Homo sapiens: one gene and its partners. The protein of the gene in region 1 interacts with the protein of each later gene in a biochemical or structural test. Each region holds a gene or a part of one and is shown in the gene's direction. Other genes may lie near its edges.

Region 1 (3,500 bases):
AGCATGCCAAGCTTGAAGGAACAGCCCATCTTGAAAGCCTGGGGGTCCAAGGCAGGGCAGGAATTCTAACAGCCTCTCCCTTTCTCAAAGGACTTTACAGTTCACAGAGTGCCTTCCTGCCCTTTCTCACTTGGTCCCCTTAGGTCTCTGGCACAGGAAGCAGCAGGCATCCTCACCCACTTTCATGGCAGAGAAAACCAAGCTTGGAGTGGGGTAGCTTGGGATCACACAGCTAGCAAATGATGGAGTGAAGATTCCAGTCCAGGTCTTCTGGCTGCATGTCCAGTGCTCTGTCAGTAAAATCCTGGCTGTTAAGGGCCACCCTGAGACAGAGGCAAACCCCAGTTTACACCCCCCCAGTGCAGGAAGTGGTTTTCGAGGGCAGATGCAGAGCCCGGCATCCGTGGTGGCTGTGATGAATCATCGGAGTGAGAGCTGCAGGTTGTCCCTGGGTCAGCAAACCTGGCTGCTCAGTGAGTAGCTGTGTGATGTTGGACAAGTCACTTTCAGCAGCCCACCACTACCCTCAACCCAACATCCGGTGGGCATCTGGGGCCCAGGAGCCAAAGCTGGTATGAGTGTGAACTCTGGGTGTCATAGCTGCCATCCCTCCTTAGCCTATTCTGAGCTCTGGATTGGATTTGGGAGAGGATTTGATTAGGTCCTAAACAGTGACTCCATTTAGAGGGCCTGGTTCATTTCCTGTGTGCTTACAGCAGATGAGACATGGGCAGAATTAACCTGGTCCAGCCAAGCCAAAGAAGTGATGGATGGGAAAGACACAGACCCCCACCTTGGGAGGGTGGGGCAGTGGCTTCCAGCACTCTAGACCCAAGGCCCTGGGTGAGCAAGCTGGTCTTCCTGGGGCGCCCTGGCTGGATTCTTGTTACTTCAGCTGTTGCAACAGCTGTCTCACTGGGTCCCCAGCTGCCTGTACTTCCTCTATCAGAGCAGTCCCCATGCTCCTTCAAACTAGTTGTCTAACCTCTGTTTTTTCTACTTAACTGAGGGCAGAGATTGTGTCTGACTTGTTCCCTGCCGTCCTCCTAGTACCTACCTCAGTGCTTGGAGAATGCATGAATGTATGCGTGCCCCAGTCCTCCCTGCCATCCACACATCCTGCCCACATTCCCCAGAGCAGCTTTGACACAGCACAGCTCTGCCTGTGGCATTTCGTTGCTCACAGGGCAAATCCCATGCCCACCATGTGTTCTGCAACCTCCCCCTCATCTTTGCCTCCCCTCCTGCCCTAATTTTCTCCTACACTTGCCACCCTCCCACCCCTGGGTTTCTCGGGTTTCCTATAATTGCTCCGGAGCTCCCGTCAAACCACTTCCCACCCCAGCTCTCCCAAGAACAGGGGCCTTACCAAACCTGCACGCAGTCCCTGTTCATACAGACCTGCCTGGGAGCACAGAAAGAACCATGAGCTCTGGGCCCTGTTCGCCAGCATCTGCTGATGTGGGATGCACCCAGGTGCGGGGCCTCAGGCAGCACTCCAGGCTGTTCCTCCTCCTTCTACAGCCCTCTGAGGTCCCCAAACACTTGTGTGTAAGGCTCCAAGGAAACAGGGAGAGACCCTGGGCAGGAGATATGAGTTCTAATCCTGCATCAGCCTCTCATTCTTAGGTAATTCCTTTACCCTCTGGGACCCCAGGTTTCTTATCTCTAAAATAAGACCACTGATAGCTCCCATTGTATCAAAAGCTTTTCCAGGGCCAGGCACTGTGAGGAGACTCAAATAGTCCTGTGAGTCCAGTATGATATCACTGGGCTCAATTCCAGATGAGGAAACGGAGGCTCTGAGGTGTTGAGAGGCTTGGCCAGAGTTGCACAGCTAAAAAGTGGCCCCATTGGGATCAAAATCAGCCTGGCTCGGGTATCTGAGCACATAACCACTGGGCCCTCTGAGAACCCTTCCATCTTGGTTAGTTTCTCGGCTGATCTCTCTGGGTAGGTGCCCTCTGGGGGCAGTACCCCTGCCTGAGTGGCACTTCCCCTCCTGGCTTTGTTTGGTTTGGCCTCGATTTAGAACAGGGTTGGCAGAGGCAGGCTGACTTGCATTTCTGGTTTTGGGTTTGTTGCTGCACTTTCCCCAAGGGGTGGGCGGGCTCTGACTGACAGTCACCACTGGGACAGGCCTGGGCCCCACCCTCACCACCCAGGAAAGGGGAAATGCGGCCCGCTCCCCACTCAGTGCCACTCTGTGCCACTCCGTGCCAGGCCCTGAGGGCACCCGGTTGCTGCTTCCTTCCGTCTTTCCCCAAGGACTATCAGAGGCAGGTGGCTGGGCCAGGGGGTGGGTCGGGGGGAGGTCTGGCCATGTGGTAGGGTGATAGGACTGAGGGGCCCCAGGGAGCTGGCTGCAGGGCAGTTTGTTTCTCCTGATGGAGAATGCTCCCTGGTGGGTGGGGCGATGGGCTGGGGACTGGTTTGTTCATGGGGACAGAGATCAGAAGTGGGCTTGAGAAGAACAGGGCCAGAAGGCCTGGACTCTGGCCCCAGCCTAGCCCCTAATTTGTGCAGGGTGGCTTTGGGCAAGTCACTAAGTCACTGTCTAGACTGGGCCCTCAGCCTTCCTGTCTACCCAATGGAGGGTCTTTCTGTCCACCTGGGAACAGCCTGATAGGACTGAAGCACAGCCCTTAGTTTCCAGATGAGAATTCTGGACTGGAGGCCCTGACATTACAATTGCCAACACTGACTCTGGTGTTTGGCAAAATTTGGTGTATGTGGGAAACACGTGCCTCTGGTTGAGGTCCTTAACTTCAGAATTTCCCTCTAGATCAATGCTTTTTAAAGCACTAACTCCAACACCACCATCTTCTGTAGGAGCTTTCGAGCTTTCCAGCTTTTCCAGCATACGCTCCTGATCTGTTACTCAGGCATGCTGGTTATCCCATTTCATACGTGGACACCTTGAGGCCTAAAGGTTGGTGACTGGCTCTACCTGACACCTCTGTGTGATTCTAGGTTGCCCCTTGCTCCTCTCTGGGCCTCAGCCTTTCTGTCTATGCAGTGGGGATTTCGGATCGCTGTTGTTTCAGAGTCTGAGGCTATGAGGTCTGAGAGGGCCCTTGTGTGGAGTCACCTCTGAGCTGCAGGCAGGATTTCCAGGGCAAGAAGGCCACAGCATCAGCAGGCACCTGTCTTTGGCCTGTGAGCCATAGCCTAAGGCGTGCCCTTCCCGACCTTGGCCAGATCACGCTAGAGTCCTCCAAGGCCTCCCCTCCCTTGCCCAGCCACCTTCTCTGCTCTGCAGGGCTCCACTTTCACTTTCACACTCCCAGGCTGTGGCTCTTACCCGTGCCGAGCTTTCACATCCGCTCACATCTGTGCTCCCAGATGCCAGCGTGACCCCTGACACGTGTGTGCAGCAGCCTGCAGCTGCCCCAAGCCATGGCTGAACACTGACTCCCAGCTGTGGGGCTTCACCATTACAGACTCCCCAGGGCTTCAAAGACTTCTCAGCTTCGAGCATGGCTTTTGGCTGTCAGGGC
Region 2 (3,500 bases), on another chromosome or scaffold:
GAAGATCCTAGAGGCTGTAGACTGAAAGCTATAAGCTAAGAACTGGACATCATGTGAATTTGTAAACCTCTAAAGATAACTTTCAAGAGAAAGCTGTTTATTAGTAAACTCACATTTCATGACCAGAAGCTGCCATTTCTGATGACAACTGTGTTTCTAAAAGGCAAATTTTGTTCATAGTATCATTTATATCACTCAAGAACATTGATTTTTTGAAAATATTCGGGTGCTACCTGCTAAGAGGTAATATTTTATATTGTTATATTTCTTTTCAGAACCAAACCTGTCTCTTATCATGAACGAGCTCTCTTTTCAGATTGCAACTCAAGATGCAAATGTTCAGAGACAAAATGGGAACCCATGTGCGGTGAAAATGGAATCACATATGTATCAGCTTGTCTTGCTGGTTGTCAAACCTCCAACAGGAGTGGAAAAAATATTGTAAGAAATCACCTCTCAAGTATATGGCGATGGTCCTGTTACAATATAAACAACAAAACTCTATGGGGGCTCACAGCAGACCACTACTAGTAGGAGGCTTGCCTCTTACCTCTGCCTGGTCCTTTTTTGTAGAAAAAGAAAATGTTATAACCATTCCTAGTGGTACTGGAGTTGCTGAAAAAATTAGGGTGAGAATTAGAGTCATCAAATAGGGTGGAAGAGATTTTGTAATTATGTAGTCTATTTCTCTCATTTTGCTTATAAGAAGTGTTAGCCCTGAATTAGAATGTCTGTCGTATGATCATCATAATAAGATATGCTTTCAGATCCATGTCCCCTGGCCCTAAGATCCGTGGTCCTTGGAGGTTTTAGGGAATGAACAAATAGAGGCCAGTATTAGGAGGCTTAGCTCCAGAGATTCTAGACCTTGGGGTCAGGGATCTGATAATGAGGAGGTTGATGGTTCTAGGACAACTTTGGAAAATCAAGCCAATTTGTATAATAATGAAAGGGCAGGTGGGCTGGAATGGAGGGTTTCCATAGGGCAGAAGAGGGAGATGAGGTAGGAAATATAGGTAGGAATCTATTTTAGTCAGTCCAGGCTGCTATAACAAATATACCATAGAATGGGTGGCTTAAACAACAAACATTTATTTCTCATAGTTCTGGATGATGGGAAGTCCAAGATCAAGGTGCCAGCAGAACTGGTTCCTAGTGAGGACCCACTTTCTGGTTTGCAGATGACCATCTTCACCTTTTATCCTCACATGGCAGAGAGCAGACAGGGAGAGACAGGTCTCCTGTCTCTTCTTATAAGGGCACTAAAATCACATTCATGAGGGCTACACCCTCATGAACTAATTACCTCCTAAATGCTTTACTCCAAATACCATCACATTGAAGGTTAGGATTTCAACATATGAATTTTGGGAAAATATTCAATCCTTAACAGAAAGCAATTGTGAAGGATGTAAAGTACTTCAATCATTAACAGATTCACCCTTCTCAGCACACCTTTCCATTCCTGTCCCAAACAGACTCTTCCTTATCCTTGCTCTCTGAGACTGCTTTCTATTTGTGACTGATTAAATTTGCCTTTATTTGACAATCCTAGAGGGCAGAAAATTAGACCACCCATGTATCTCATTTATTTATATATCCTTATCAACTGGATATGAATACTTAGGCTGTATATCCACAGATATACAGTTAAGTTTGTTAATTTACTCTGTTCATTGTATTATTATTTTGACTTATTTACAGCAGAAAGGATTGGTTTCTAGCAACAATGAATAAGACTACCTACTCATCTGAAACATGTTTTCATGCTTCTCTTTTTTTCTTTTCTTTGCTTTCTTCCTTTGTTATTTTTCTTTCAGCTACTGTTATTTTTGCTCACAGCTGCATGAAGGTTTTTTTGTAATGAGAGCTACCATTTATAAAAGACATTACAAGGAAAGGTTAAAGATTGGTGTTAAAAGAACAAAATTACATTTAAATCTCATGGTCCTGAAATAATTTGCATTATTTTCAGTATTTTCTTCATGTGAGAACTGAGGCACTGAGATACAAAGGACTTGCTTAACTCATTTATCTAGTGAGCGACCAGAATTAAGATTCAAAGGTTTCAACTTGACATTACAAAAAATCTATATTGCCACTCTTTCTAGAAAAGTAAATGCCAGCTTTATTTATGGTCTAAAAACTCACAAACTCTTTTGTGATTAAAAATGATAACATTATATATATGCATTCATAAATAAAATTTACAGAAATAAACTATTGAGGGGTTATACAAATTGTCTCTCTTCAGTCAAAATTTAGTTGAGTTTTATGCACCAGAATTATTTTTTTCTCATAGCCACTGTAAATTATGTCATATCCTCAAATTGTTCCCATTTACTTAACTAAGTTTTATCAAATGCCTAAAATGAGAGTCTATTCCATTCCCCAGTTGCATAATAACAAAGCAGCAGTTTCTGCTTTCATGGAGGTTACATTCTGTTGGGAAAGTATGTTTTAAAAATAAGTAAATACAGGATATCCTGATAGGTAGTAAGAAGCACTGTAAAAAAAAGACATACATTAGAATAAGAAGATGGAGAGATGGGAGTTGTTTTTTTTTGTTTTTTTTTTTAAATGGATAGTCATAGAAGGTCTCTATTAAAACCTCTAAACGGAGAACTAAAGTATGGACGCCAGCTGTGTAATCACCGAAGAGAAGAGCTGCCCGGGCAGAGAAAATAGCAGGGCCGTGAGGCATGGATGAACTTGCCAGGTTTGAGGGGATGTTTGGAAAGGGCAAAATGGGGCCTTTGCAAGGGTCATGTGTGTGGCTTACACAGAAGAAGAGAGGGAAGATCACTGAATGGTGAGATTAGAGTGGCATCCAGGTGCTACATGATGGAGAAAGTGTAAACTGTTATAAGGATGTGGGGTTTCATGCAAGTATGATGAGAAACCACTGGCAGGTTGAGGGTAGTGATGCAGTCTGACTGCCATGTTTAAAGGTTCACTTTACTTACTGGGTGGAAAGCAGATACTAGCTAGATAAGATTGGAAACAAGTTGCGCATAAAGGGAGCATTGTAACAATCTAGGCAAGAAATCATGGTTACTTAGCATTGGAAGTGGTAGCGAAGGAGGTAAGGTATGGTTAGATTAGGCAGGATTTGCTGGGAGATTGTTGTACAGGATTAGTAGTTTGTAGATAGTCATCTGCTCTTTAGATAATGAAATGTTGTATCTATATAGATTTTGCTTTGCTCAATATACTGTAATACAAAAAAATAAAAGAATATTTCCTCATTGTTTACATAATGCATGGCTACGGTAAACATTTTTAACATAACTGTCTTTAACTTTATTTAAATGTTACTGAAATAATTGGACTTTTCCCTATCGTGTTACAGATATTTTACAACTGCACTTGTGTGGGAATTGCAGCTTCTAAATCCGGAAATTCCTCAGGCATAGTGGGAAGATGTCAGAAAGACAATGGATGTCCCCAAATGTTTCTGTATTTCCTTGTAATTTCAGTCATCACATCCTATACTTTAT
Region 3 (2,875 bases), on another chromosome or scaffold:
AGAAGCCTTTGGGACCACCCGGCGTCAAGAAGGCTTTTGTCCACCCAGGCCACCCACCTAATTCGGTTCTCTTACGTGACTGCTGAGTCTGCCATCTGCCTCCTGCCCGGATTGAAAGCCCGGGAGGGTCTCCACACCCGGGCCCAGGCCAGGCTCTCCAGGGGGCTCAGGAAGCCTCCGCTGCACGGACGCGTGAGGCCGCCGGGGACCCCGAGTGCGGAAAGGACCAACGTGCCCCGCAGCGGCATTCGAAATAAAAACAGCAAACACGAAAATAACCACAGCCCTGTTTTACGCAACCTGCCCCTTTGCAGTTATATTAACAGTGGCCCCTCATTTTTCTGTGAGCCCCACTTTGCTGCTGCTGAGTTCGCCAGCGGGTCACCTGGAAGCACGTGGCGACACGGGCCACATGACGTCATCCCAGCAGGCTTGCGTCATCGCCCCGGGTGCCTGGTGACGTCACCAGCCCGCTCGCGTCACGCGCACGTTCTGCTCCTCGTGGTCCGGCCCGGCCCGCGCCATCACCGGCCCTGCTCTGCGGGGCCACCCGTGCGCCCCTTCGCCGTCCGCTGACTCCGCCCTCCCGCCTGCCGACCCGGCCGCCGACCTTCCCCCGGCTCTGTCGCTCCCAAGGCTTTCTGCAGCCCTCCGTGCTCCAGGCCGCACACCTGAGGGTGGGACCCCCGGAGGCCGAGCCGGTGTCGGATCAAACTCGGAGACCGAGCAGGGCCCAAACCGGGACCGGAGTGGGGACGGGCGGAGGAAGCCAAGAGGCTCGAGACCGAGGCTCGCCCACCCCTCGGCGCCGCCGGACCCTGCGCCACTGGGGGAATTTCCTTCCCGACTTCCCGCGCGGCCACAGCCCCAGCTCCGTCCAGCCCCGGCTCCCGGCCCCCTGGGCGGGAGAGTGAGCCCCGAGACTCCGCCCAGCCCCGGGGGTCCCGGGCCCCGTTCGCCCCCAGCGGCCCCTCCCGGCGCGTTGCTCGGCCCCGGCTGCATCGGGGAGCGCGGGATCACCCGGCCCTGTCCCCAGCGGTGTCGGAGGGGGGCGCGGGCGGGGGCCCCGCATGCCATTGTCGCCCGCGGAGGCCGCGCCCGGAGCCGAGGCGTGACTGACAGCGAGCGGGGGAGGAGCGCGGCCGTCGATTGGCTGGGGCGAGTGTGGGAAAGAATGCGGAGCCGGGTTCACACACCCCGCGGCGGCGAGGCCTTAAATAGGGAAACGGCCTGAGGCGCGCGCGGGCCTGGAGCCGGGATCCGCCCTAGGGGCTCGGATCGCCGCGCGCTCGCCGCTCGCCCGCCAGCCCGCCCGTGGTCCGTGGCGGCGCGCTCCACCCGGCACGGGGAGGCGCGGGGCGCACCATGGCCGCAGACACGCCGGGGAAACCGAGCGCCTCGCCGATGGCAGGAGCGCCGGCCAGCGCCAGCCGGACCCCAGACAAGCCCCGGAGCGCGGCCGAGCACCGCAAGGTGGGGTCCCGGCCGGGCGTGAGGGGGGCGACCGGGGGGCGGGAGGGACGCGGGACTCAGCCGGTGCCCGACCCGCAGTCCTCCAAGCCGGTCATGGAGAAGCGGCGCCGAGCGCGTATTAACGAGAGCCTCGCTCAGCTCAAAACCCTCATCCTGGACGCCCTCAGAAAAGAGGTAAGTCGGGGGCGAAGGCCCGAGACCCGGAGTCTGGGTCGCAGCTGACCTGGACCTCCCGCCTATCCCCGCCCCCAGAGCTCCCGCCACTCGAAGCTGGAGAAGGCGGACATCCTGGAGATGACCGTGAGACACCTGCGGAGCCTGCGTCGCGTGCAGGTGACGGGTGAGGCGCGGGCGGCGGCGGCTTGGAGGCGGGGGGAGGGCGCGGGACCCCCGGGACCCGGCACCGACCTCTCCTCCTGTGTCGCTCCCGCAGCCGCGCTCAGCGCCGACCCCGCCGTTCTGGGCAAGTACCGCGCCGGCTTCCACGAGTGTCTGGCGGAGGTGAACCGCTTCCTGGCCGGCTGCGAGGGCGTCCCGGCCGACGTGCGCTCCCGCCTGCTGGGCCACCTGGCAGCCTGCCTGCGCCAGCTGGGACCCTCCCGCCGCCCGGCCTCGCTGTCCCCGGCTGCCCCCGCAGAGGCCCCAGCGCCCGAGGTCTACGCGGGCCGCCCGCTGCTGCCATCGCTCGGCGGCCCCTTCCCTCTGCTCGCGCCGCCGCTGCTGCCGGGTCTGACCCGGGCGCTGCCCGCCGCCCCCAGGGCGGGGCCGCAGGGCCCGGGTGGGCCCTGGAGGCCGTGGCTGCGCTGAGGCTGTGGCCCTGAGACTGCATCGGAGGCGGCGCCCCGTTCTAGGGCCGTGGCCTTTGCCGAGACTGTAGCAGAGAAAACGTATTTATTATTCCAGAGTCTGCGTCACGAGTTTTCTTTCTTTGTCTTGGTGAAGAGTTGACTTTGGGAGCGCCCCGCAGCCACGCCGCGCCGGGGTCCCGCCCTCCTCCCAGGGCCGCGGTCTGCAGGTGGCTGGGGGCGTCGGGCGGGCCCGGGGGGGCGGGCTGGGGGCGGGACCGAGGACTGAGGGCGACCCCTCCGCTCCGCGCCCTCCGCTCCGCGCCCTCCCCTCCGCATCCCTGCAGCCCCGCATGCGCACCCGCCCTCTGCCCCCGCGTTGGGTTTGCCTCGCTCTGCGGTGGCGGTTGTGAGGGGTCCCCCCGGAGGCTCAGGTGGGAAGCTCAACGTCCCTGAGTGCCCAGAATCTTCCCGGTGCTGGAAGGCGGTCGCGCAGCATCGCCGGGCAAGTTACTTTTCGGAGGCCCCTTTCCCGACTCCCAGTCCCCGGACCGCGGAAGGCGGAGGCTGCGGTCCTGAGCGGCGCTGGGATGAGGGCGGCCGCCCTTGGCCCTGAA

What was found.
Region 2: the proteins of RGS3 (region 1) and SLCO1C1 interact in a test that uses a peptide from one of them, tested with the Homo sapiens proteins (one large-scale study listed by IntAct).
Region 3: the proteins of RGS3 (region 1) and HES4 form a complex in vitro, tested with the Homo sapiens proteins (one large-scale study listed by BioGRID).

Annotation. Positions count from the first base shown.
Region 1 is NC_000009.12:113,578,727-113,582,226, forward strand, and holds part of RGS3 (regulator of G-protein signaling 3), read left to right. Parts: intron 1-2,201; exon of another isoform or gene 2,202-2,279; intron 2,280-3,345; exon of another isoform or gene 3,346-3,500. UniProt on the Homo sapiens protein: Down-regulates signaling from heterotrimeric G-proteins by increasing the GTPase activity of the alpha subunits, thereby driving them into their inactive GDP-bound form.
Region 2 is NC_000012.12:20,736,832-20,740,331, forward strand, and holds part of SLCO1C1 (solute carrier organic anion transporter family member 1C1), read left to right. Parts: intron 1-275; coding exon 276-441; intron 442-3,352; coding exon 3,353-3,500. UniProt on the Homo sapiens protein: Mediates the Na(+)-independent high affinity transport of organic anions such as the thyroid hormones L-thyroxine (T4), L-thyroxine sulfate (T4S), and 3,3',5'-triiodo-L-thyronine (reverse T3, rT3) at the plasma membrane.
Region 3 is NC_000001.11:998,464-1,001,338, reverse strand, and holds HES4 (transcription factor HES-4), read left to right. Parts: upstream 1-1,241; 5' UTR 1,242-1,365; coding exon 1,366-1,473; coding exon of another isoform or gene 1,474-1,551; coding exon 1,552-1,647; intron 1,648-1,725; coding exon 1,726-1,813; intron 1,814-1,906; coding exon 1,907-2,280; 3' UTR 2,281-2,375; downstream 2,376-2,875. UniProt on the Homo sapiens protein: Transcriptional repressor. Binds DNA on N-box motifs: 5'-CACNAG-3'.